Linked DNA regions of Homo sapiens. The protein of the gene in region 2 interacts with the protein of the main gene of each other region in a biochemical or structural test. Each region holds a gene or a part of one and is shown on either strand. Other genes may lie near its edges.

The links. Proteins that work in one complex are often made in the same cells at the same time.
Region 1: the proteins of PPFIA1 (region 2) and PTPRS form a complex in vitro, tested with the Homo sapiens proteins (one study listed by BioGRID).
Region 3: the proteins of PPFIA1 (region 2) and ERC2 form a complex in vitro, tested with the Homo sapiens proteins (one study listed by BioGRID).

The regions. Positions count from the first base shown.
Region 1 is NC_000019.10:5,211,813-5,219,226, reverse strand, and holds part of PTPRS (receptor-type tyrosine-protein phosphatase S isoform 1 precursor), read left to right. Parts: intron 1-428; coding exon 429-440; intron 441-694; coding exon 695-807; intron 808-2,459; coding exon 2,460-2,507; intron 2,508-3,631; coding exon 3,632-3,729; intron 3,730-3,814; coding exon 3,815-3,938; intron 3,939-4,490; coding exon 4,491-4,666; intron 4,667-4,746; coding exon 4,747-4,866; intron 4,867-6,735; coding exon 6,736-6,890; intron 6,891-6,976; coding exon 6,977-7,262; intron 7,263-7,414. UniProt on the Homo sapiens protein: Cell surface receptor that binds to glycosaminoglycans, including chondroitin sulfate proteoglycans and heparan sulfate proteoglycan.
Region 2 is NC_000011.10:70,371,334-70,379,161, reverse strand, and holds part of PPFIA1 (liprin-alpha-1), read right to left. Parts: intron 6,970-7,828; exon of another isoform or gene 6,951-6,969; coding exon of another isoform or gene 6,948-6,950; coding exon 6,772-6,947; exon of another isoform or gene 6,686-6,771; coding exon 6,588-6,685; intron 4,245-6,587; coding exon 4,069-4,244; intron 2,631-4,068; coding exon 2,562-2,630; intron 1,133-2,561; coding exon 967-1,132; coding exon of another isoform or gene 959-966; exon of another isoform or gene 691-958; intron 1-690. UniProt on the Homo sapiens protein: May regulate the disassembly of focal adhesions. May localize receptor-like tyrosine phosphatases type 2A at specific sites on the plasma membrane, possibly regulating their interaction with the extracellular environment and their association with substrates.
Region 3 is NC_000003.12:56,465,468-56,473,821, reverse strand, and holds the start of ERC2 (ERC protein 2), read left to right. Parts: upstream 1-5,354; 5' UTR 5,355-5,574; intron 5,575-8,354. UniProt on the Homo sapiens protein: Thought to be involved in the organization of the cytomatrix at the nerve terminals active zone (CAZ) which regulates neurotransmitter release. Seems to act together with BSN. May recruit liprin-alpha proteins to the CAZ.

The sequences.
Region 1 (7,414 bases), on a different chromosome or scaffold from region 2:
TCACTAAAGGTCTCTGTTGTACACATGGGGAAACCGAAGTTCAGAGAGGTTAAGCCACTTGATCAAGGTCACACAGCATGGGAATGGCAGAGCTAGGGCTCAAAGCAGGCCAGTGGCTTGGCTTCTCCTCTTAACCCCTATCTTCAACTCAGCAAGATTTGGGGTAGAGGCTGCCTGTGTCCAGTTCAATGAGGATAGCAATTGTAGTGGCCCCATGGGGCACATCCCAGGGCTGAGATAAGCCTCCTTGTGGTGTCGATAGGCAGGGGGACAAACAGGAAATATGAGCACCATTTTCCAGAGGAGACCAAAGCTCACAGAGGTTAAGGAAGGCACTGAGAGTCACAGAACAAGCCCTTGATGGCCGGCACACCCTCACCTTTCTTCTTTTTTTCCCCCTTCTCACCTGTGTCTGCTTTCGGGAACAGCAAACCCGACAGGTAAGAACCAGCCCTCCCCCGTGGAGGCTTCAGGCAAGAGGAAGAGGACAGGGAATGGGCTGATAGTGTGCCCACAGGAGAGGGGATGCCCGGCTGCCCCCACAGCTTGTACACGTAGCTGTACTTGGTCCTGGAAACCCTAGTCATACGGGTCCATGGTCCTTTTCTTACCATGCATTCCTGGGGCCTGAATTGTGTTCACACATGAACATGTGCCACTACTAACTGGACTGTTCCGCTTGCTTCTCCTAAAGTAAACGCAAGGACTCAGAACCCCGCACCAAATGCCTCCTGAACAATGCCGACCTCGCCCCTCACCACCCCAAGGACCCTGTGGAAATGAGACGCATTAACTTCCAGACTCCAGGTATGTACTTATCCCTGGTACCAGGGATGCCACCAACAGGGGAGATAGCTGGGGAGAAGCAGTAGCTGCCACCCTGGGGGCCCCTCATTGGCCCCCTCTGAACTATGCTTGGTGCAGCCACATTCTGGATTCCCAAATACCTCCAACCCTACATGGATCTGGGCTTGGAACTCATAGGTTGGTTCTGCTTACAACCAAGTGAGGCTTTTTTTTTTTTAAAGTTAACATTTAACCAATGGCTGCTGTCCTCTTCAGGAGCCTAAAGACGATGTTTAAAAAATGGAGAAAACACAAATAAACCCCTCATTTCTTTGGGCAGAAAGAGCTATTCTTCTGTTTATGTCTCTGGTTTTAATGTTCCTCGGTGGTGGGAGTTGAGGTTTGCCCTCAGCCATTTTCCACACTCCCTTGGGATATATCCCTAGCAAGGTACAGAAATTATACCTGCCCAATGCCCTGTACCTCTTCCCACCATGGCTGCCAGGGTTCATGCCTCTTTATAGTTCCCTGTAGATTAAAGTCACCTGACAGTCCAGGAGAACTGAATCAAGGCCTTATCCTTGATCATTTTCATGTATGATTCACAAACTCTACCATCTCCTCCCTCTTCATGGGCTCATGCCAGCTGCTTCTAACCAAATAAGGAATTTTTCATTTTACTGATGGCTGCTATTCTCCTTATGGGTTCACAGCCAAGTTACATCTGTCCTTCCAACTGTACCCGGTCTCCACTTCGTATCTCTGAACTGGTTCATATCAACTCTATTTTCCAACCAAATGAAGATTTTAAACATTTGTATTTCACTGATGTCTTTAGTCCTCCTTAAAGCCTCATGCATAGCCTCACATGCCATTCCTGATGTACTTTCTTTTTTTTTGTCTCTGGACTGGCTTGTGTCACTTCTGTTTTCATCCAAATGAGGAGTTTGACCATTAGTATTTAACTGATGGCTGCTGTCCTCATAAAGGGATCATGCAGGGCCTCATGTATCACCCCTCGTGTATTCTCTTCCCTTTCTTTCCTCTGTACTGATTCGTGTTGCTTTGGTTTTTCAGCCAAATGAGAATTTTAAATGTGCATGTAACTGACGGCTGCAGTCTCCTGAAGGGATCATGCAGAGTCTCACAATTCACCGCTAATGTGCTCCCATCTCATTTCTGTCTCTGGACTAGCTGATGTCTGTTGTGTTTCCATCCAAATAAGGATTTTCAACATGTGCATTTAACTGATGGTTGCTGTCCTCCTTGAAGCTCATGGCATGGGCCCATATGTCCTTTCCCTGCTCCCCCAGCTTCTCCTTCACCATCCTGCATCCTCCTTCCTCAGAATGCCCTCTGCTGACCTCAACAGAGGGGACCCAAGGCCAGGCTGGTCTGGGGGAGGGGATCTGTAGACAGAAGAACCTAGCACTTTGGAGTCCTTCCAGAGTGACGGGTCAAGACCAGGATTGACTGGTGTCCAGCCAGAGGGGTACACAGTTAGCAGCTATCGTGAGTCCTCAGGTGGGGGCCCAGGTGGCTGTACATACCCCCCGTTGTCCGCGTTGCTCTGCCCTTTGCATCCGCCAGCCAGTGAGGGGTGGGGGAGGCAGAGGTGGGACCCCCCCCTACCCCCTGCATGTTTTCATTTATTTATTGTTTGCTGTTTGCAGATTCAGGCCTCAGGAGCCCCCTCAGGGAGCCGGGGTTTCACTTTGAAAGTTAGTTCTTGTGTCTGTTTTTGGCTTCCTTTCGCCCCCGCCCCCGTTCATTTCCTCTTTGGTTTCTCCATCGTGTCTCCTGTCTCTGTCCACACGCCCACCCATCACCGGCCTTTGCCCACCTGTCTTGTGCTGGCTCCTGGAAGAGGGCAGGGGGTTGGTCCATTGGGCCCTCAGGTGGCTGTGTGTGACTGCTGTGTGTGTGGTGTGTATGTGTGTGTCAGGGATGTGGGTGAGGCACGTATGTACCCAGGACGTGCCCACAGGACAGGCAGGCCCCTTAGATGTGAGCTCTTGGGGGGCACCCAGGACAGCTAGGGACACATGGAAGTCTCAGAACATTAAATGTTACCAGCTGGTCTGGAAACCACCTGAGAGCTGAACATCCGGTACACAGGTCCCAGGAGAGGTCAGGGTTCTGCAGACCCAGATATCGGGAAGGGAGAACCGAGCCCACACCCAGCACCTTCGGCAGCCATCCTAGGGGGCTTGAAAGGATAAGAGCTCTCAGGCCAGGGCCTTCTTGCACCTGCTCCTGCCCCAAGCAAGCGCAGGGACAGATGGGGACCCCTCACTCCTCTCACGTACACACACACATACTGTTTCCCCTCCCTAGTCTGTCGCCTCTACCTGGAAGCGGATTTCGTGCCTCTGATCCCAGAGGGACAGAAAGGGGTGTCAGTCGCCCACCCAAGGACAGTATTTCCAAAGCACAGCCGGCTGCGTCTGCAATTTAATTTCTGTGCCACACACTTGCTTCTTGGCTCGAGGCACTGGGAGCTTGACATCCTCTGGGGTGACCCTTCTGCCAGCCCCTGCACCCCCAGCTTGGTTGGAAGGAAACAGGATGGGCCAATGCTGTGATCCAGGCCCCTCCAGGGGTGTCAGCCTCTGCACGGAGCAGAGGGCCTCAAACCTGCTGCCTTTAGAGTCCCCTAGGCCTGGGGTCCCAGCCCCTTCATGAGCCACCCTGAGTCTTCCCCTCCTGCCAAGCCCCACCCCGGCCATGCCCTTCTAACCACAGCTCACCCATCGCAGACTCACACGTAGATCACCCCCCTCCCCCGAGTCCCCGGCTGGCCCCCCAAGTGACCAACCCCGGCGGGGTCTGCTCCACCCTGTAGGCATGCTTAGCCACCCGCCAATTCCCATCGCAGACATGGCGGAGCACACGGAGCGGCTCAAGGCCAACGACAGCCTCAAGCTCTCCCAGGAGTATGAGGTGAGCCCACCCCCGCCTCCCACCCTCATCACCTCGGCCTCACAGGCACCTACCCTGACACCCGCGCTCTCCCCTTCCTCTGTAGTCCATCGACCCTGGACAGCAGTTCACATGGGAACATTCCAACCTGGAAGTGAACAAGCCGAAGAACCGCTATGCCAACGTCATCGCCTATGACCACTCCCGTGTCATCCTCCAGCCCATTGAAGGTAGTTCGGAGATCCCGGGTCTTAACCTGCCCTTCCCCACTGCATGGAAAGTGCTAGATCCCATGTCTCCCCTTGGGCCACTGAGGCCTGATTCTGGTCATAGACCTGGTCCAGCTCCAACTGGAGGCCACTGGGCATCTTTAGATATGTATTTAACTGATGGCTGCTCTCTCTAACATGGCTTCATCTGTCCTTCTGCATCAGTTGTGACCAATCAGAGCAGTTTTGCTGCCCAGGGGACATCTGGCAATGTCCAGGGACATCTTTGGTTGTCACAACTTGAAGGGAAGAAATGTTGCTGGCGTGGAGTGGGCGGAGGCCAGGGATGCTGCTCAGCACCCTGCAGTGCCCAGAATGGCCCCGCCACAGAGGGCGATCTGGCCCCAAATGGTGATGGCGCTGAGGGGGAGAAACTGTGAAGTACACGTCCCATGGTCACCTTGGGGACAATCTGGGAGCGGTCAGAGTGAACTTCCAGGAAGTGGTTGGCCACACAGAGCCAAACTAGCAAGACAGCCCCCACAGATCCCTGGCCTCTCGCCCTGGCTGCAGGCATCATGGGCAGTGATTACATCAATGCCAACTACGTGGACGGCTACCGGTGTCAGAACGCGTACATTGCCACGCAGGGGCCGCTGCCTGAGACCTTTGGGGACTTCTGGCGTATGGTGTGGGAGCAGCGGTCGGCGACCATCGTCATGATGACGCGGCTGGAGGAGAAGTCACGGGTGAGCCTTGGACCCCACGGCCCTCAAGCCCCTGCCAGTCAGCCTGTCCCTGCTGACACCTGTTCTCTTGCCCGATACAGATCAAGTGTGATCAGTATTGGCCCAACAGAGGCACGGAGACCTACGGCTTCATCCAGGTCACGTTGCTAGATACCATCGAGCTGGCCACATTCTGCGTCAGGACATTCTCTCTGCACAAGGTGGGGCCCAGGCTGGGGCTGGGGGCTGAGGGTGGAGGAATGTGTTGGAAGGGAGGCAGAGGGCCCCAGCTTCTACCCAGGGAGCTCCCCATGGGACAGAGAGAAAGCGGAGCGTGTCTACCCAGGCTGACTACATTCTCATGGAACCCACTTCCGTGGAGGGGGAAACTGAGGCTCAGAGAGGACACTGCTTGTTTCCACCCACGGCAGGAGAACAAAGCCGGCAGAGCCCAACTCAGCAATGAGCCTGATTTCTTCTTGCCTTTACTCATGCCCCAGGTCCTCTTTGCCCACTTGTCCTCTGGCCTCACCCAGCTTGAGCCTATGATGGGGGCCTCAGCAGGGCCCCAGCCCTGCCTTCAAGGAGTCTCCAGACAGAGATGGACAGATATTGGCAGCCCTGCAAAGTCAGGACTGGGATGGAGAAGATCTTTTAGATATGTATTTAACTGATGGCTGCTGTCCATAGTGCGGTTCCATCTGTTTTTCTCCATCTGTGGTTCTGAATTAGGACAATTCTGCCATCCAGGAGACATTTGTTATTGTCATGATGGGGAGGGGAGGTGCTACTGGCACCGTGATGTATCCCCAACACCCAGCCAGGTCATCTCACCGTCAGGCACCTGCTTGACCTAAGTGCCAGAAAACTGAGTACATGGACAAGAGTGAGAATTCTTGGTTCAATCACACACATTAAGCATATGTTATACATTAAGCATATGTTATATCTCACTCCCTAACCTGGACACAAGCACACAACAGGGACCTAAACAGACAAAACGTTCTGCCCTTGGGGGATTTAACAGTCTAGTAGACAAGACACAGACCACAACTATGAAATGTCAAGAAAGCTTACATGTCAAAGGAGAAAAATAAAGTGGAGGAGAAAAACAGTGTTAGGGACCTGGAAGAGGGTATGATGGGGAGATTTGGGGGGACAGCATTTCAGGTAAGAGGGTGCAGCCTGGGCAGAGGCCCTGGGGCAGGACCGTGCCTGGTCATGCAGGATCCTGTGGGCCTTGGGGAAGACTTTGGCTTTGACCCTGTGGGAGGCAGGAGCCATGGAGGGCTGTGGGCAGAGGAGGTACCAGATCTGACTCAGGTGCCCTCTGGCTGCTGCAGGGAGGACAGACTGGGGGGCTTGGGTGGGAGCCAAGGTCTGCGGCAAAGAGGGTGGTGATAGGTCTAGACCAGATTGGCCTGCATGGAGAACATGGAGCAGGTGGATTGGGATAGACTTTGAAGGCAGAGCCGACAGTCCCGGGTGAGGTGTTGGATGTGAGAGGGGAAGAGTTAAGGGTGACTCCCAAGCTGTGGCCAGAGTGCCCAGAAGGTTGGAGCCACCTTCAGCTAAGACGGGGGAGCAGGTTTGGGGAGAAGGCCAGATACAGTTGGCCACGTTGTGTGTGAGGCGTCCGCAAGACTCTACTTGGAAACCGTCCAGGGCCAGCTAGAGCCCAAGTCAGGCACTTGGGGACATGGTGACTGGGAGGCGCAGACATGGGTGTTTTTTTTTTTGAGATGGAGTTTCACTCTGTCACCCAGGCTGGAGTACAGTGGCGCCATCTCAGCTCACTGCAATCTCCACCTCCCAGGTTCAAGCAATTCTCCTGCCTCAGCCTCCCAAGTAGCTGAGATTACAGGCATGCACCACCATGCCTAGCTAATTTTGTATTTTTAGTTGAGACGAGGTTTCTCCATGTTGGTCAGGCTGGTCTCGAACTCCTGACCTCAGGTGATCCGCCCACCTCGGCCTCCCAAAGTGCTGGGATAACAGGCATGAGCCACCACACCCGGCCACTTGGGCATCTTCAGCACATGGGTGGCAGGTTGAGCCGGAGTGACAGGTGACATCCTTGTGGTCCCCAGAATGGCTCCAGTGAGAAACGCGAGGTCCGCCAGTTCCAGTTTACGGCGTGGCCGGACCATGGCGTGCCCGAATACCCAACGCCCTTCCTGGCTTTCCTGCGGAGAGTCAAGACCTGCAACCCGCCAGATGCCGGCCCCATCGTGGTTCACTGCAGGTACGTCCACCCCACTCTGCCCCATCCGCTTCCCCCCGGTCCCCGCAGCCCAGCAGCCCCTGAACGCCACGTGGCTGTCCCTGCAGTGCCGGTGTGGGCCGCACAGGCTGCTTTATCGTCATCGACGCCATGCTTGAGCGGATCAAGCCAGAGAAGACAGTCGATGTCTATGGCCACGTGACGCTCATGAGGTCCCAGCGCAACTACATGGTGCAGACGGAGGACCAGTACAGCTTCATCCACGAGGCCCTGCTGGAGGCCGTGGGCTGTGGCAACACAGAAGTGCCCGCACGCAGCCTCTATGCCTACATCCAGAAGCTGGCCCAGGTGGAGCCTGGCGAACACGTCACTGGCATGGAACTCGAGTTCAAGGTGCCAGCGGGGTGGAGGCTGCTGTGGGCGGGGTGGGGAGGAGGCCCAAAGAGCCGAAAATCAGGCCCGCCTCGAGCAATGGGGACTAGAAGGTGGTGGCAGGGTGCCCCTACCTACCTATCCACCATTGGTGCTCCAGCTGAAAGCATAGC
Region 2 (7,828 bases):
CTGTGTGTAGCACAGGGGCTGCCAAACAGCCCCGACTGACACGGGCTCAGAACTTCACCAGCTTAATGAATGAGGCATTCAATCATCGCAACTACTCTATGAGGAAGACACTACCATGACGACCATTTTACAGATGGGGAGACCGAGGCCAGGGTAGTTAAATGACTTGTTCAGGGTCATGCACCTCCTAGTGGCAGAGCTGGAGTCAAACCTAGGCAGCCTGGCTCTTCAACCTGTGCACTGCCTTTCATTAGATGAGTACAAGGGCAGAGTTGAGAGACCTGTAAGGAAGCCATGGTCAACTGTTAACCTCAAATCAAAGTGGCCGTCTAAGGGAAAATCCCAAACTGCATGTGAAATCATGGCAGTGATGCTCTCTCTCTGGCTGGTATAGTCAATAGCTGCCTCGCTCCACTGGGGACTTCTTGGAGGTTCACCTTCCTCCCTTCCCTGCCCTCTAATGGGTAGACATGTGACTGCACGGAACAGCAGCAGCAGGGAGGGCAGAAAGCATAGGCAGAGCTCACACAAGCTGGAAACTGTGTGTTCTTAAAAATGTACTCAGTTATTTTCTCTGGTGTGGAGAGCAGTAAATTATGTGGTTTGGAAGCTACTACTACACTACTATTTCCTGAAAGAGCTTTCTAGCACGGCCTGTCACAGACACAAATTTACAAGTATGCCTCAGTCTCTCTCTGAGAACACAGACGAATACTGAGCTTTATTAGTTGGAAAAATATGCTAAGATTCAACCAGACAAGCGTGTTTTAAAAATTCTATTATTATGGTTAAACTTTTATAAACAAATGTTAGAGTTAATTTAAAAACATTTATATTTGGACATGCAACCATACTCAAGTGCCTTGTAACATATTAAATAGGCCGTTTTAGATCATTATTAATGTTCCAGACAGAAAGCTGCTCATGCTCCCAACAAGTGACAGGTTAGTGTGACCCATCACATACCGTCCATCTGCATCTTCTTTGGCTGCATAGAGGGGGAAGACATAGAAGAAGTCACCCGGAAGTTTGCAGGGAGAGTCTCTGCTGACCCAGCAGCTAAGCCACGAATGTCCTTTGGTCTAAACTTTTTTCTCCATGAAGGTGCTCTCCTAAAGCTTTTATCATCATCCTGGTAAATTAAGGAACAAAAAACAAGATTCATTTAAAAAATAAAGGTCAGAGATGTAAAGTTACATGTCCTTTAAAATGACTGCTGATCTCGAGAATGTATTCTTGTCCACATGTATTTAATCCCTTCTTGATGACCACACAATATATTGCCCAACCTGGAACTTCAGCGTGAAACGGGGCATGGTGATGGTCCGGCTGGGCCTCAGCTGGCGAAATGAGGTCGGTGCTGGGCCATGAGGATGTGCTCCTTCTCCACAGCATCATGTTCTACTTCTTACACCTTGCAGGAATCACTTTCTTGCAACGTAATACGTTTTTATTTATCTTAAAAATAGTTTATTTTTCATTTTTATTTATGTTTTTACAGACAGAGTCTAGATCTGTTGCCCGAGCTGGAATGCAGTGGTGTGATTATAGCTCACTGTAACCTCAAACTCCTGGGCTCAAGCCATCCTCCCACCGCAGCCTCCTAAGTAGCTGGAACTACAGGTGTGCCCCTACCACACGCAGCTCTACAAACAATTTTTAACTAGAAACAATTTTATCTTATGCCAGGATATAGCAACAAGTGCTTCATCTTTAGAGGTGGTCTTCTATTCTCTCTGTCAAACTCAACTTTTCTTAAGGTCCAATTAAGAGACTCCTAATCGTGTGGAACAAATGAGTCATGGTTTTAAGGGGAAATTAACATTTTGTGTTTTTAATATACTTCTGAAACATGCCACCCCACCCATGCACAGGAGTATGGGGGTACACTCTGGACTGGGGTAGGATAACTACTGGTCCCCAAAACCCAACTTACAGACTCTGTTCCTAAGCTGCAACCAATGTTTTATGATGTGAAAACCATTTTTGAGGGATGTCAAAAATTAAATAGCAAAAATAAAAACAAAACTACCTTCTTGAAGGTATTACTTTTGTGGGTTTTTTTTTTGCGGGGAGGGGGTTTCTTTTTGAGATGGAGTTTCTCTCTGTCGCCCAGGCTGGAGGGCAGTGGTGCGATCTCAGCTCACTGCAACCTCCACCTCCCAGGTTTAAGCGATTCTCCAGCCTCAGCCTCCCAAGTAGCTGCGATTATAGGCACCTACCACAACGCCCGGCTAATTTTTGTGTTTTTTAGTAGAGATGGGGTTTCACCATGTTGGCCGGGCTGGTCTTAAACTCCTGACCTCTGGTGATCCGCCCGCCTCAGCCTCCGAAAGTGCTGGGATTACAGGTGCGAGCCGCCGTGCCCGGCCCAGGTATTAGTTTTTAAAGGCTCATTTGTGAATAAATGTATAAGAGCAAAGCCTGACTTCTAACATCCAGAGAGACTGCCTAGCTACATGATGTCCCAAGTATAATAATAATAACAGCTTACATTTCACACACATTTAAACATTTACACACATTTCAGACATTTAAAGAACATTAGGCCAAAAACTTACTTCATCAAACCTTCTATCAGTCCCCATGACCAAAAGGTTGTTAAATTCTCTTTCCAAGACAGCACGAGCCTGAAATAACCAAAGAAAAACAAATAAAACTTTCATCAAATCTAATTTGAAGGGTGTTAGCATCGTAATTGTTTTTTAAACCAAGACTTAAACTCCCTCACTGCTGGCTGGGTCTGGTGGCTCACGCCTGTAATTCCAACACTTTCGGACGCCAAGGCGGACAGACCACCTGAGGTCAGGAGTTCAAGACCAGCCTGGGCAACATGGTAAAACCCCGTCTCTACTAAAAATACAAAAATTAGGGCCTGGGTGTGGTGGCTCATGCCTGTAATCCCAGTACTTTGGGAGGCCGAGACAGGCAGATCACTTGAGATCAGGAGTTTGAGACCAGCTTGGCCAACATGGTGAAATCCCATCTATACTAAAAATACAAAAATAAGCCGGGCACGGTGGCGTGTGCCGGTAATCTCAGCTACTTGGGAGGATGAGGCAGGAAAATCACTTGAACCTGGGAGACAGAGGGTGCAGTGAGCCAAGATTGCACCATTGCACTCCAGCCTGGGCAACAAGAGCGAAACTCCATCTCAAAACAAACAAAAAAACAACTCCCTCACTGCTATGACTACATTGAACCATAATAATATTTTAAATCAGGGCATCTAATGTGGAGTCAATGGATGGGCTTTTGCAGAAAGGGATCCATGATCCTTGGAGTCATATTAACAAGGGTGTGTTGTGTGGGTTGGTCAGGGGTATTGGCCAAAGATATTCAATTTTTTTTTTTTTTTTTCCTTTTTCTTTGGGATGGGGGTCTCACTCTGTCACTCAGGCTGGAGTGCAGTGGCGCAATCAGAGCTCATCACAACCTCCACTTCCCGGGCCAAGCAATCTCCCTGCCTTGGCCTCCCAAGTAGCTGGGACTACAGGCATGTGCCACCACACCTGGCTAATTTTTTTGTATTTTTTTGTAGAGACAGAGCTTCACCATGATGGCCAGGCTGGTCTCGAACTCCTGGACTCAAGCAATCTGCCTACCTGGGCCTCCCAAAGTGTTGGGATTGTGGGCATGAGCCACCTTGCCTGGCATATTCAATGTTCTGTAGAGGAATAAAAGTTCCCTGTTTTTCAAATGAGCCCATGAGTCAAAAAGAATGGCATAAGGCAATTACCCATAAAAACAAAATTAATAAAATCTTCATGTGGCACACCTAAAAACACTTCTCTTTCCATGTAAGAACTAAATATATGTCACTCTTCTGATCAGGCACATGGGCTGGAATGAAAGATCGTCCTTATCTGGTTTATTGCAGGACTCTCATGCTTCCAACAGAAAAGGGAAAGCCAATAGACCAAAAAAAAAAAAAAAAACCAAAAACTAGTTGTCTGAAGTTTTTTTTTTTTTTTTTTTTTAAAGTTTCTTTCTATTCGAATAACTAGCTGTCTATAATCAGGGTGCCAACTGAACAATGAGTGCAGACACAGACAGGTTTGGCGTCACCTGTGTGTTCTGCGTCGGGATCTGTAACAGCAGTGCCAGTGCACTGAAGTCGAAGGTTTCATCTAAGGCCAGAAGTGCTCCGTGAACACCACTCTCTATAAGATTGTTTGCATATTCTTTAAGGCCAATTGACAGGATCCAGCGAATCACTCGATCATTGCTCCAAACAAGCACGTCTGCAAAAGAATAAAGACAATTATAAAAGTGGCTTCAGAAAGCCATCTTTATCACATGTACCCTGTAATGCAGGAGAAAGATTCCTACCATGGTTCCTAATCCTTCGGCTCCTGAGAAAAGTGCTGGGAGACACTGCTAAATAGACAACCATTTGCTGCACTGAGACAATGGTGTCCTGGCCCTGCTCCACTCTCAGGGAGACTCTCCCATTAGAACTCATCCTTCCAGTGAGCACGAGAGGAATGAAGTTATTATTTCTAGAGAAAAGAAGATGATGAGGATCCAGGGATCAGAAGCCAGAGGACTGCAAGAACTTGAATACCTAACATGTATAAACATGCTTCACACACAGACTGGAGAGTCTTCTGAAATACTTCATCACGGATGGAGCTGGCTCCATAATAATATGAACACTTTGCTCAATTCAACAGAAACCTCTCATTTCTAATCTCGAAGTCTTTGTCTCATTTTAAAATGAGAGAAACTTAACAATATCATCCAGCACATTAGAGACTTTGCAGAAAATCTTTTTTTTTCCTCTCTTTTTCTTGACAATGTCCTGCTCTGTCACCCAGGCTGGATACAGCCTGGTACCATCATAGCTCACTGCAGCCTCAACCTCCTGGGCTCAAGTGATTTTTCCCACCTCAGCCTCCTGAGGAGCTGGAACTACAGGCGTGTGTCACGAAGCTCAGCTAATTTTTTTGTACTGACAGGGTCTCACTATGTTCCCCAGGCTGGTCTTGAACTCATGGGCTCAGACAATACTCCTGCCTTGGCCTCCCAAAGTGCTGAGATTACAGGCATGAGCTACCATGCCCAGCCACAATATCTTATGCAAATTAACAAATTATTCAATTTGCTCTATTAGATCTAAAAATAGCCACTCTAAAAATATATGCAGATGATCACCAATCACTTCCAAAGACACTTCCAAAGATCTTTGTCTATTGGAAAAAGATGTAAAATAGATACAGAAAACAAAACAGATGGACATATTTCATTGCCAATGCCCTTTTCTGGATAAAAGTCCATACATATACACACACTGTATAAATGTCGACTTACGACTTTTCTCCTGATTCACATTAACTCAATCACAAGTAGACTTCCCTTCAACTGGGCCATCTCCCAACCATATTTTTATCCTTAGTTTCTTTCTTAGTATAAAGTGGGGATGAAAACAGCACTTAGACTGACAGGGCTAAGGTAAAGATGAAAGAAAGCAACCCCTGAGTACTTAGAACACCACCTGGCACCTACTCACTGTTAGTAAGACTGGCCTCTTCTTATCATTATTGTTATTGGTGACTTCCTTGCATTCCAGGAATTCTGGGAGTCATTACTCTGAGCTTAATGTTTACTGTCTAATTTTAAAAGCAAATTCTGACTGGGTGTGGTGGCTCACACCTGTAATCCCAACACTTTGGAAGGCCAAGGTGGGAGGATCCCCTGAGCCCAAAAGTTCGAGATCAGCCTAGGCAACATAGCGAGACCCTGTCTCTACAAAAAAAAAAAAAATTCCAGGCATGGTGGAGCACACCTGTACTCCCAGGAGCTACTAGGGAGGCTAAGGCAGGAAGAGCACTTGAGCCCAGGAGTTCAAGGCTGTAGTGAGCTGTGATCACACCACTGCACTCCAGCCTAGCCTGGGCTACAGAGCAAGACCCTGTCTCAAAATAAATTAAATAAATAAATAAACAAACAAACAAATAAATTTGAGTACGAGTGAGGGACTCCCCAACGGAGAAGAGAACCAACTCCACGTCTTCTGGATGAATGTCTCACATCCTCTAACGCCTCCCTGGCCTGTGTTTTCCAACTGAAATGCCTTTTCCTTACCCTAAGCAGCTCCTCCTCCTTCTTCAAGGACCAGCTGAAATGCAGACGCTGCCTCTCCTTCCCCTCCGGGAGCAGAACTGCACGGTGCTCTCCTGTTCTCCTGAACCCCTTGGATAAGCCCCCAGTCATATTTCTCACACTTGAATCATCAAGTGAGCTTTGCTCTGTTGTTATCTAACAGTGTGGAACAGCATTTCGGAGTGAAGGAGTACACAGGGCATGACCAAAGGAAAACTCTCAACTCACAGGAAACGACTAGCCGGAGACATTTAACCTCCAGACTGATGTGTGAGAACACAGGGAACAGTTCTCTAGCTGTGGAAGAGAATCTCAAAAGCACTCAACTTCATCCAGCCCTCCTCTGCAATGACACTAGACTAGTTAGTTTTCTCCACTTAAATTTAGCCTTTCTTGATTTTTTGAAAAATAGGAAGTCACTGAGGCTCCAAACACACCAGCAAGTAGGAGTAAACCGAATCAATTAAATGTCATGTACTAACCTTTTATTTCACTCTGACTTTCTTCTCTTTTTCTTTCCAGTTCTTTCCGGTCATAATTTAACCTTCTCAGGCACATAATTCCACACTGGAAACTGTTTCTATTTGGAAGAAAAGAGAGATGATTTAGAGATGGTAACAGTGAAAAATCTTAGCCAATTATTAAGAACTATCTCCATTAAGTTACCTGTGAAAACTGTCGACCATTTTCAGCTGCCCTCGAAGGTCTTTCTTGGTCAAGTGGTCCAGCATCCTGGCGTCTACAAGGCACTCCATGAAGTAGCTGCGGTACTGGGGGAGGCCCAGGCTGGGGAGCCACTCGTTGCCGATCCACTCGTGGTTCATGTCCCCATAGGCGAGTGTCTGCTTTTCATAAATGGAAAAGGTCAGTTACAGAGGAAGTCTCAAAAGTAGTTTATATCATTTTTAAAATGAATTTTTAATCTATTACCTATATTCTCAAAGGCTAAACTAATGATAATTTTATAATTGCAAAATAATTTGATCTCTTCTCACCTTTTAAATTTGTTAGTAAAATTTTTATACAACAGGAATAGTAACATGAAAAATATATGATTCGTTGTGATAAATTTAACTTTTAAATCAAACTACAAAAAAACTGTAACTGGCTATAAATTTCCTCTCTGAGATAGTTTTTAGTATAATAATGTGACAAAGATTGATCACGACTCATGAACAAGTTTGAAGGCTCAATTCAACACTGCTCACTAAAATTATCTCTGGTTGGTTTACATTTTAACACTTTGTTTTCCTAAAGAAAAAATCCATTTCAAAATCAGTAAAAGTCAGTTAAAATATAGTTTTAGAGAAGAGATAAAGCAACAACCAACAGGACTAAATGGGGAAACAGGCAAATTCACAATTATAGTTGAAAAAATTCAACACTTCTTTCTCATAGCAACTGATGAAAGAAGCAAAAAAAGAAAAAAATTAAGAATATAGAAAACCTAAACTAACAACCCTTAACAAACTTGACCTGACGTTTCATAGAACACACCACCCAACAACAGAATATAGAACACTCCACCCAACAATGGAATGTAGAACACGCCACCCAACAACAGAAGATAGAACACGCCACCCAACAAGAGAATACAGAACACGCCACCCAACAAGAGAACATAGAACACGCCACTCAACAACAGAATATAGAACAATCCACCAAACAACAGAATATAGAACACTCTACCCAACAACAGAATATAGAACATGCCACCCAACAA
Region 3 (8,354 bases), on a different chromosome or scaffold from region 2:
AGCTGACTTTCAATTCCGACAGTACTTGTGGTTGCAAGGAAGAGAAACTCACTAAAGATACTTAAGGAGGCAAAAACAAACAAACAAAAAAGAAGGTATCTACTGAAAAAACATAGAGGCCTGTCATGGAACCCAAGGATAGCAAGGGGGGGGTCAGACTTCATGAGTGATTAAAGTCAGGAAATGAGGTTATTGGAAGCCAAGGAACTAAAGAAATTGATGTTATTTTACATTATATGAACATTTAATCAACATTTTTGCAAAGCCCTGAAAGACTTGCCTGCCTTGAGATGACAGATTTACAGAAAATTATAAATTGAGAATTAAATGTTTAATAAATGTCTACAAAATATAACTTTATGGGTTTTCATATTTATAAACATTTCCTTTCATTTGCAAACAACTGTATGTTAGATTTTCTTCTCACCTTATAATAGTCTCTGAGTATGCTTAATGATTTTGGACAACCACAGCCACAAGTAAGTAAAATGAATGGTTCTTGCTCAAATAATTTAAAAAACTTTCAAGCATTTTCACAGAAAAACAAATGTGTGTGTGTGCATGTGTGTGTGTGTATAAATATATATATATTTTTGACAGAGTCTTATTCTGTCACCTGTGCTGGAGTGCAGTGGTGTGATCACAGCTTACTGCAGCCTTGACCTCCTGGGCTCAAGTGATCCTCCTGCCTTGGCCTCCCAAAGTGCTGGATTACAGATGTGAGCTACCATGCACAGCCAAAAAAATATATACTTTTGATGGTGCTGGATTTTGATATCTTTGCTATGATGCTTAAAACCTACAAAGGTCTTAAAACATTTCTGGCAAATATAATTTGAATGGTTTAACGGCACCAATTGTTGGCTTCCAAAGGATCAGGTGACTTTTTTCCAGTCCAACTGTTGTGGTGATGGGTCAGTTAATTAGGTGTTTTGTTTTGTTTTAAAGTGGCAGCTCAATCATGTTTCTTTTGAGCTAAAATCTACCCTGTTAAGACTTGCGCAAATGACCTCATGCCTAAGAAGAACAGACAATTATAAGTTGTTTAGGGATTTTGTTTCTTATTCAACTAGATTCTTCCTGTGGACATGCTAATGACTGTTCTGGGTTACTCGGCTATGCCCAGGACTCTAATCACCAAACTTGGTGACTCTCATATACTGTCTTCATCAAGTATCTGCTGTCTGACTTCAAAGCACATTGAAACTGCCATGTTCTGGACATCTCTACCATGAGGTCCTTGGCATCTCAAATACGAAAAGCCTTAAATTGAACCCATAAACTGTTCATAATTGGGTTTCCCATATGATCTATAAACTTTCCATAAACCTGTACTCCTCCCCAACCTTTATTTCCAGTTTTAGTGAATGGCACACTATCCACCTAGCTGCCCAAACCAGACTCCTGGGAACATTTTTGACTCCTCTCTCTTGCACATAGCCAATTGCTCACCAAGTCCAGTTTATTTTACCTCGTTTGTTCTGGAGTCAGACTTCTTGGGTTAGAATTTCAGCCCTGCGATGACTTAGCTGTGTGGCCCTGGTAAATTACCTTACCTAGAGGTGCCTCAGTGCCTTTGTTGGTAAAATAGGTGTAATAATGGTATATTTTAGGTCAATTGCGAGGAATAAGTCAGTTAATGCACACAAAGAGCTTAGAACAGGGCCTCGCACATAGTACTGATTTTGTCTAATTGGTATTTGTTCTTTGTTGCTGTTACTATATTCAAAATGAATGCAAAAAACCCAAAGAAACAAAAACAAAACCAACACAGGTTGTTGTTTTATGACCCTGCATCATTGTGCAAGAAGAACAGTTGTTTCCAACCTGTGCTCAGTTCCAAGGCCACTTGGCTCTCATATTCCCACACTGGCAGGCTTGTGAGGGTTGACAATCATAGGAAAACTGATTGGGCATTACGGTGCTTTTATATATAGTCATGCTTTTTCACTGTAGAGCTTAACTTTTTCTATTTGGTTCAAAAAATATGTACGGGTACAGAGTTTTTCTTTTGCTTCAGGGTTTGATATGGCTTGGCTCAGCCCCAAGTAAAGCTGATAGAACTGGCTGATGGTGTAAACGTGTGGTATAAGCAAAAGGAAGAATTAATGATACTCCTAGGTTTGGACCTGAGCAACAGGATGATTGGTGATGTCATTATCCTGATGGGTGACCTTGGGAGAGAGGAGACTTGGTGCATAAAAATCAAGTTTGAGATACTGGTGGGTTAAATACTCACACTGGGGAAGTCAAATAAGCAGGTAGATATCCAAGGCCTTTAGGTCTTTAGAAATCTCATTTCTGTCTACATGGCTGGCTGTTCTCCTCTTTACAGACCAACTTCCTTGGCAAGGATCTTAGAACTTACTTCCTGATGACTTTGGCATCATGGTTTTTGGTGCCATTGTTCTAATTTGGGCCACCACAGTCTACAATCTCACCATTCAATGCCAGCTGACTGACTCATTCTTCAAGCTCAGTTTGAAATACTGGAAGGAGAGCCTGTCATGGCTCATCCAGGGGCAGGTGTCCACCACAGCTCCCATCTATGATAGCTGCCACTCCAGGCTGAGCACACCATAGGGCAGCAAAGTTGGATGTGGCAGCAAATTTGACATTTCCTCAGGAAAACTTTTTCTGAACCCCAGGGGAACAGTTGGTTATCCTTCCTGCATGTTCCTGCAGTTCCCAGAACTTTGTCCCTTCATAGGCAGTATTGTTATTGCCTGCTTCTTGTCTGTCTCCATCACTAAACTGTACAGTCCTTGAGGCAGGGGCTCTGAACCCACAGGACCTAGGAGAAAGTAGATGCTCAATAAGTATTTGTTGAATGAATGAATGAATATGTGAGAAAAAAATATCTGCCATGAAAGTATGCTCTCTCTGACTTGCTTGAAAAGAGCTTGTGAAGATGAAGAAAGACATCAATAACTGTCAAAACAATACAAACCAAACCAAACCACCACGACAACAAAAAACCCTGGAGCAACAGACCATGTTTTAGAAAATATAATATGTTTTAGAATTTTCTGTCCTGAAGGGTTAGATCTCACAATGGCTACTTGTTAGCATATTGCGAGGGTGTGTTTGTTTGTGTGTGTGTGTGTTTGTGTATGTATTTGTGTACCTATACACACATATATGTGTATTTTAACCTAAAGTTAGAAAATGTTAGAGTTGAGAGCAATCTTAAGATTCTTTAGTTCCGCTTTTTATTTTCAGAAAACTAAGTCCCAGAGAGGATAAAGATGACTTGCTTAAGATTCCTATAACTTCCACTCTTCGTTTTACTATGTAGAGTCACTTTCTATTTAAAGTAATTATTCTTAACTTTTCTGGGTCAAGGACCCAATTTGAAAGAAATCTGTTGAGAACCATGAATCTTCTCTCTGTGGGAAAAATGTACATAAGCATGTACATAATAAATTGATCCCCTGAATGTCAAGGGTTCCTTTTAAAACCCACGGATCAAAGGAAAAGAGAATGGGTGGCCAACCAGAGTGAACCTCAGGCATTGATTTAAATAAATTCTTCATGGGATCACCCTGGTATGTTACCCAACTTTTCTGAAAGTTGGTAAACATCTTATAGAATATTTGTGAGAATAGTTGAGAAAATGTAAGTGCCTGCACAGAGGGGGGTACTAAAAAATGTTGGCCACGTTTCAAAAGATGTGGGATTTTAGGAATTCTCAAAGGACTCTCAACAAGGCTCTCATATACAACAAGCCTTTTGAGCAGAGGCTGTCAAGGATGTATGTGGGGAACAAAACACAATAGGTGGAGCTTGGTTTTGCCCCTGGAGCATCTAGGTCAGGAGAATGAGTGTTGATTTCTCAGAGAGAGAAAGAAGAGGATGAGGGCAAAGAGAGTCTATGAAAAACCTTAGCTACCAGAGGTGTACAGGCTTAAGGAACAGGCATTTGGGCTGGAACAGGAAGGCATCCTTGTCTCTCAGAGTCTGATTCCCTGAGCAGGAATCATTTAATATTTGAATTCCGGCGGGGCGCGGTGGCTCACGCCTGTAACGCCAGCACTTTGAGAAGCTTGAGGTCAGCGGATCATTTGAGGTCAGGAGTTCAAGACCAGCCTGGCCAAGATGGTGAAATCCCGTCTGTACTAAAAATACAAAAATTAGCTGGGCGTGGTGATGGACTCCTGTAATCCCAGCTGCTCAGGTGGCTGAAGCAGGGAATTGCTTGAACCCAGGAGGCAGAGGTTGCAGTGAGCTGAGATGGCACCACTGCACTCCAGCCTGGGAGAAAGAGCAAGACTCTGTCTCCAAAAAAAAAAAAAAAAAAATTGAATTCCTATCGGGGAGGAAAGAAGGATCCATCCTCTAATCGCTGTACTAATTCTATGCCTCTGCGCACCCAAACATCCCATGGCTGGATTTGCTTTATTTGTCTGAGCTTCCCAGCAGGAGAAATTTAGATCTGGCCACTGAAATTGCTGGAAGCAGACTCATCAGGACAGGAAGGAAATGACTGCTCTATCCCTGCAAATTGACTACTCAGTGAAAGAGACCAAGTTTAAAGATGCCCATGGCTATCCCAGTACCCTCCCTAATATAAAATGGCAGCAGCTGGGGCTCCAGACTTGTTGAGTGGAAGCTTTTTCCAATGAAAAACTTGTCCAAATCCTCTTGCTCATTACCTTGAGGTGTGTGTGTGTATCTGCCTGTGTGCGCGCGTATCAACTCAGACATCATCTTTCTACCTTAAATTGGGACAATGCAAGCACATTTCAGGGCACAGAAGAGGCACCCAGTGAATATGACGGATGCGATCTTTTCTCTTGTTCCTGTCTTTATCTTTCATTCTGTCCTTTCTTTGGGGGAACAATAAAGTGAAGATCTTATGAAATTCTTTCAACCTCCTAAGGAACATTAAAGCTGATGGACGGTGCCAGGGTATGGTAACCACGACCCCTTACTCCAATGCTTAACTTAAAAGATAAGTGCCATCCCTGCCCCTGTCACCAAAGCCACCTGACAAGTTCCCAGTGTGCCTGGCAGCTTTTGGAGGGGGGTACCCGGGAAGGGGCGTCGGGGATGGAAGATTGGGGACAGGTGCTTCGCGCCGCGGCCTGCCGGGAGGAGGCGCTGCGAAGACCCCCGCCCATGCCGGGCGCTTTCTGCTGCCCCCAGCGGAGGCGCCCGGGCCCCAGCCCCGTCCCCCCTAGCGGCTCCTCGGGAATGCTGGGAATGTGAGTCAGGGCCTCTGCGAGCGGGCGAGCGTGCCGGCCGGCCGGGTGGGGGCCCCGCCGAGCGCAGCGCCTGGCAGCGCCGCGCGAGCGCGCGTCTCGGGACTGCGGCGGGTGCCGCCCCCTCGGCCGCCGGCCCCGCCCGGCCCCGCGCCTGGCCCTGGCCCTCCGAGCAGTGTCCTCCTCCTTCCCTTCTTTCCTCCCTCCCTGTTCCCCGCCCCGCTTCTCCTCCTCTTCCTCCGCCTCCCGCTCCTGCTCGCTCGGTCTCCGGCTCCGGCGCCGGCTCCTGCTCCTCCTGGCCGCCCGGGGCCAAGGCGACGAGAGGTTGTAAAAATCCATGTGGGACGGCCCCGGGGCGAGCATCGGAAAGGTGAGACGCCGACGCCGGGGCCGGGGCCGCCTGGTGCCCGGCTCCCTCGGGGCGCCCGTGCCCGGGCATTCCTCGTGCCGGGTCCCCCTCGCTCGTGGGGAGCTGCAATGCGTTATCGTGGGGAGCCTAAGGGTGAACCATCCGCCTCCTACGGGGCTTTCTTGGGCGGGGGGAGGGATGGGGCGGCCTAAGGGAGGCTTTGCCCTGATGTATAAACCCCCGGATTGGAACAAGTGCACGGTTTCCTCCAGCGCGCGGGCGCCGCTCGCTAGCCCCGGCTGCCCGGGCCACCTCCCGCAGTCCCTCTCCGGCAGCCACCCTCACTGCCATCGCCTTTCTTCTCTCAGATCCCCCTCTTCTGCCTGGCGTCCCCTCTTGCCTCGAGGGGTGGGGTGTTCGCGGGGTCGGGGGTCTTGAGCAATCCTAAGCAGAACAAAGTGGAGAAAGGTGGAGCCCCCGCCCGGGGGTGGGGTGGCTGGCCGCCTGGGTGGGTTCAGAGGGGAGCATATTTTTTTTTAAAAAACCCGTGTCAGGGAAAATGAAGCCGATTTATCGGGGAGGGCTAGGGGATGGTGTATGAAAAGGAATACGATGTGAAATTGAACTGAACGGCATCCCTTCTCTCCTCCTCCCCATCTCCTAATTATACAAAAAAAGGGATACTTACGAAGGTGTACCTAATTAAAAAAAATACCGTACGAGCCTTTGAAAGATCGTCTTAGGACAGTGAAGATTAAGAGCTGCTTTGGTTCGGGGTAATAAAATAGCGCTCGTAAACTCTCCGTTCGGCCCTGCCTTATTTATTTTGTACTTAAGGGTCTCTGTTCTCCTTGCCAGAGAGGGAGGGTCCGCTCTTTTAGGAGTGGATCGATTTTAGGCGGCTACCTGCCTTTGCTGTATGAAAGGCAATTTACTCCCCGAGCGGTGAATTGTCGGTTCCCTCTGTGATTGACAGCCACACCTGCCACTTACGTGGGTAGAATGGGGACCGGTGGAACCCAAAGAACCAATCAATGCTCGGGAGAGGAGGGCAGCTCCCACTTGTCATGGTTAGTTTCCTGGTTGGCTCTTTAAATCAGTGATTTTACTTAACCATTGGTTTCCACCTGGTATGGGGATACAGCTGTGAGAGGCAGACAAGCGGGAAGAAAACTCTTTGAAAATGGACTTTTAGAAGCAAGTATATTTGACCTGTGTTTCCTTGTCCTCCCCATCCCTTACCCACCACCCCCCTGATTATTAGTTGTAGTAGTTGCGGATGCCGAGGCCACTGGCTTAAAAATGAAAATGAATCTGTGTAAAGAAGGAATTGGGGGAGGGGGTGTTAGAATTGCCCACCTATTTCTCCAGAATTGCAGTCTTTATAAGAGACAACATGTACCGTTGAGCTATCCGGGAAAAGGGTGTGGCACTTTGTCTCCTATGGTCACTCTTGTCCTTGTAAAGTCACATTGTTTCTCAGTATACAGTACTTGGGGCTTGGCTCTACTGGATGGATTTATAAGGTATTTTTGGAGCCGGCAAACGTTCTTTATGGGGAGTCACATGAATAGAAGGGATTCTTTTAGTTCTGACAGTTAACTCAACTTCTGGAAGTGAGGGCTGCCTTGTTCTCTTTTGCAGAATGTCAGTTCGGTGGTGGTGGGGTCAAGCCATTTTCTTTCCGGGGAGTAGTAGAGTTTGCCTTTTTCTCATGTAAGCCATCTTGTCTGTTTGCTTCTGTGCTTTAATAAAATACTTTTACAGTTTTGGCAGGGAGGGGTGTGGAAGGTGATGGTGTCATGGTTTTCACCAGCAAGACTTTCACGGGTGGATGAATCATGGGTGAAGGACCAGATCCATCTCAACTCACTACTAGTGAAAGCCTGATTTTTCAACACCCTTCTCCCTGAATTCATTAGAAAAATTACTGATTGATCCAAAGAGCTGTCACTTTATAGAAGTTGTACCTGGATGTGAACATAATTCTGTGAATTAAGCCTTTCATAAACAGACTGTGAGCCAGAATATACTGATTAGAATGGTTTTCATGTAGAAGCCGGGTTTGTCAAAGCAGTATTATTACTATTACTATCATCATCATTGTTATTGCATAGGCAAGCACTTTGTTGAGTACTTTATATGCATTATCTTTTTTAAACCTTGTGGAGCCCCTGTGAGGTAGGTACTATTCTTACGCCCAAATTATAGATGAGTAACTAGAAGGAATTCAGTATCTTGCCACAGTTTAGTATGAAAGCAAGAACCTGAGCCCGGGTTCGTCTTACCCAGAGCCCATGACCTTGGCCGTGGCCTTGACTTCAAATTTTGGTTGTGTAGTCTGCATGTGTCCAGTCTGAAGTGTGGGTTCTCCCAGCATACGTAGAGCTAACCATTTTAAGAGTCCACTGTGATTCTGACAGTCCTTTTATCAGCCTGTTTTGCCTTTGCATTTGAAGGCTGTGGCATGGGCCAATAGGCAAATTTAGTAACTCTGTTTATTATATATTTCCAGTAGAAACATAATAAAATATAAAAAATATAACACATAATAAAATAAAAATTTTGGCTCGATAAAAATTTGGTTCCAAACTTAATGATGATGACTTAAAAGAAGGTAAAACAAAACAAAATTCACACTCTTCCATTTTTCTTGACACCTTAAATTTCCAATTAGAGTTTTAAATAGATCTTGGTTGAATAAATGCTCTTAACATCCTTCAGTTGTCTCCCCACCAAGGGATTAGGGTTTTATTTTCTTTGTTATTTACAGAGACCCTTTTCCATTAGTGATTAGGTAT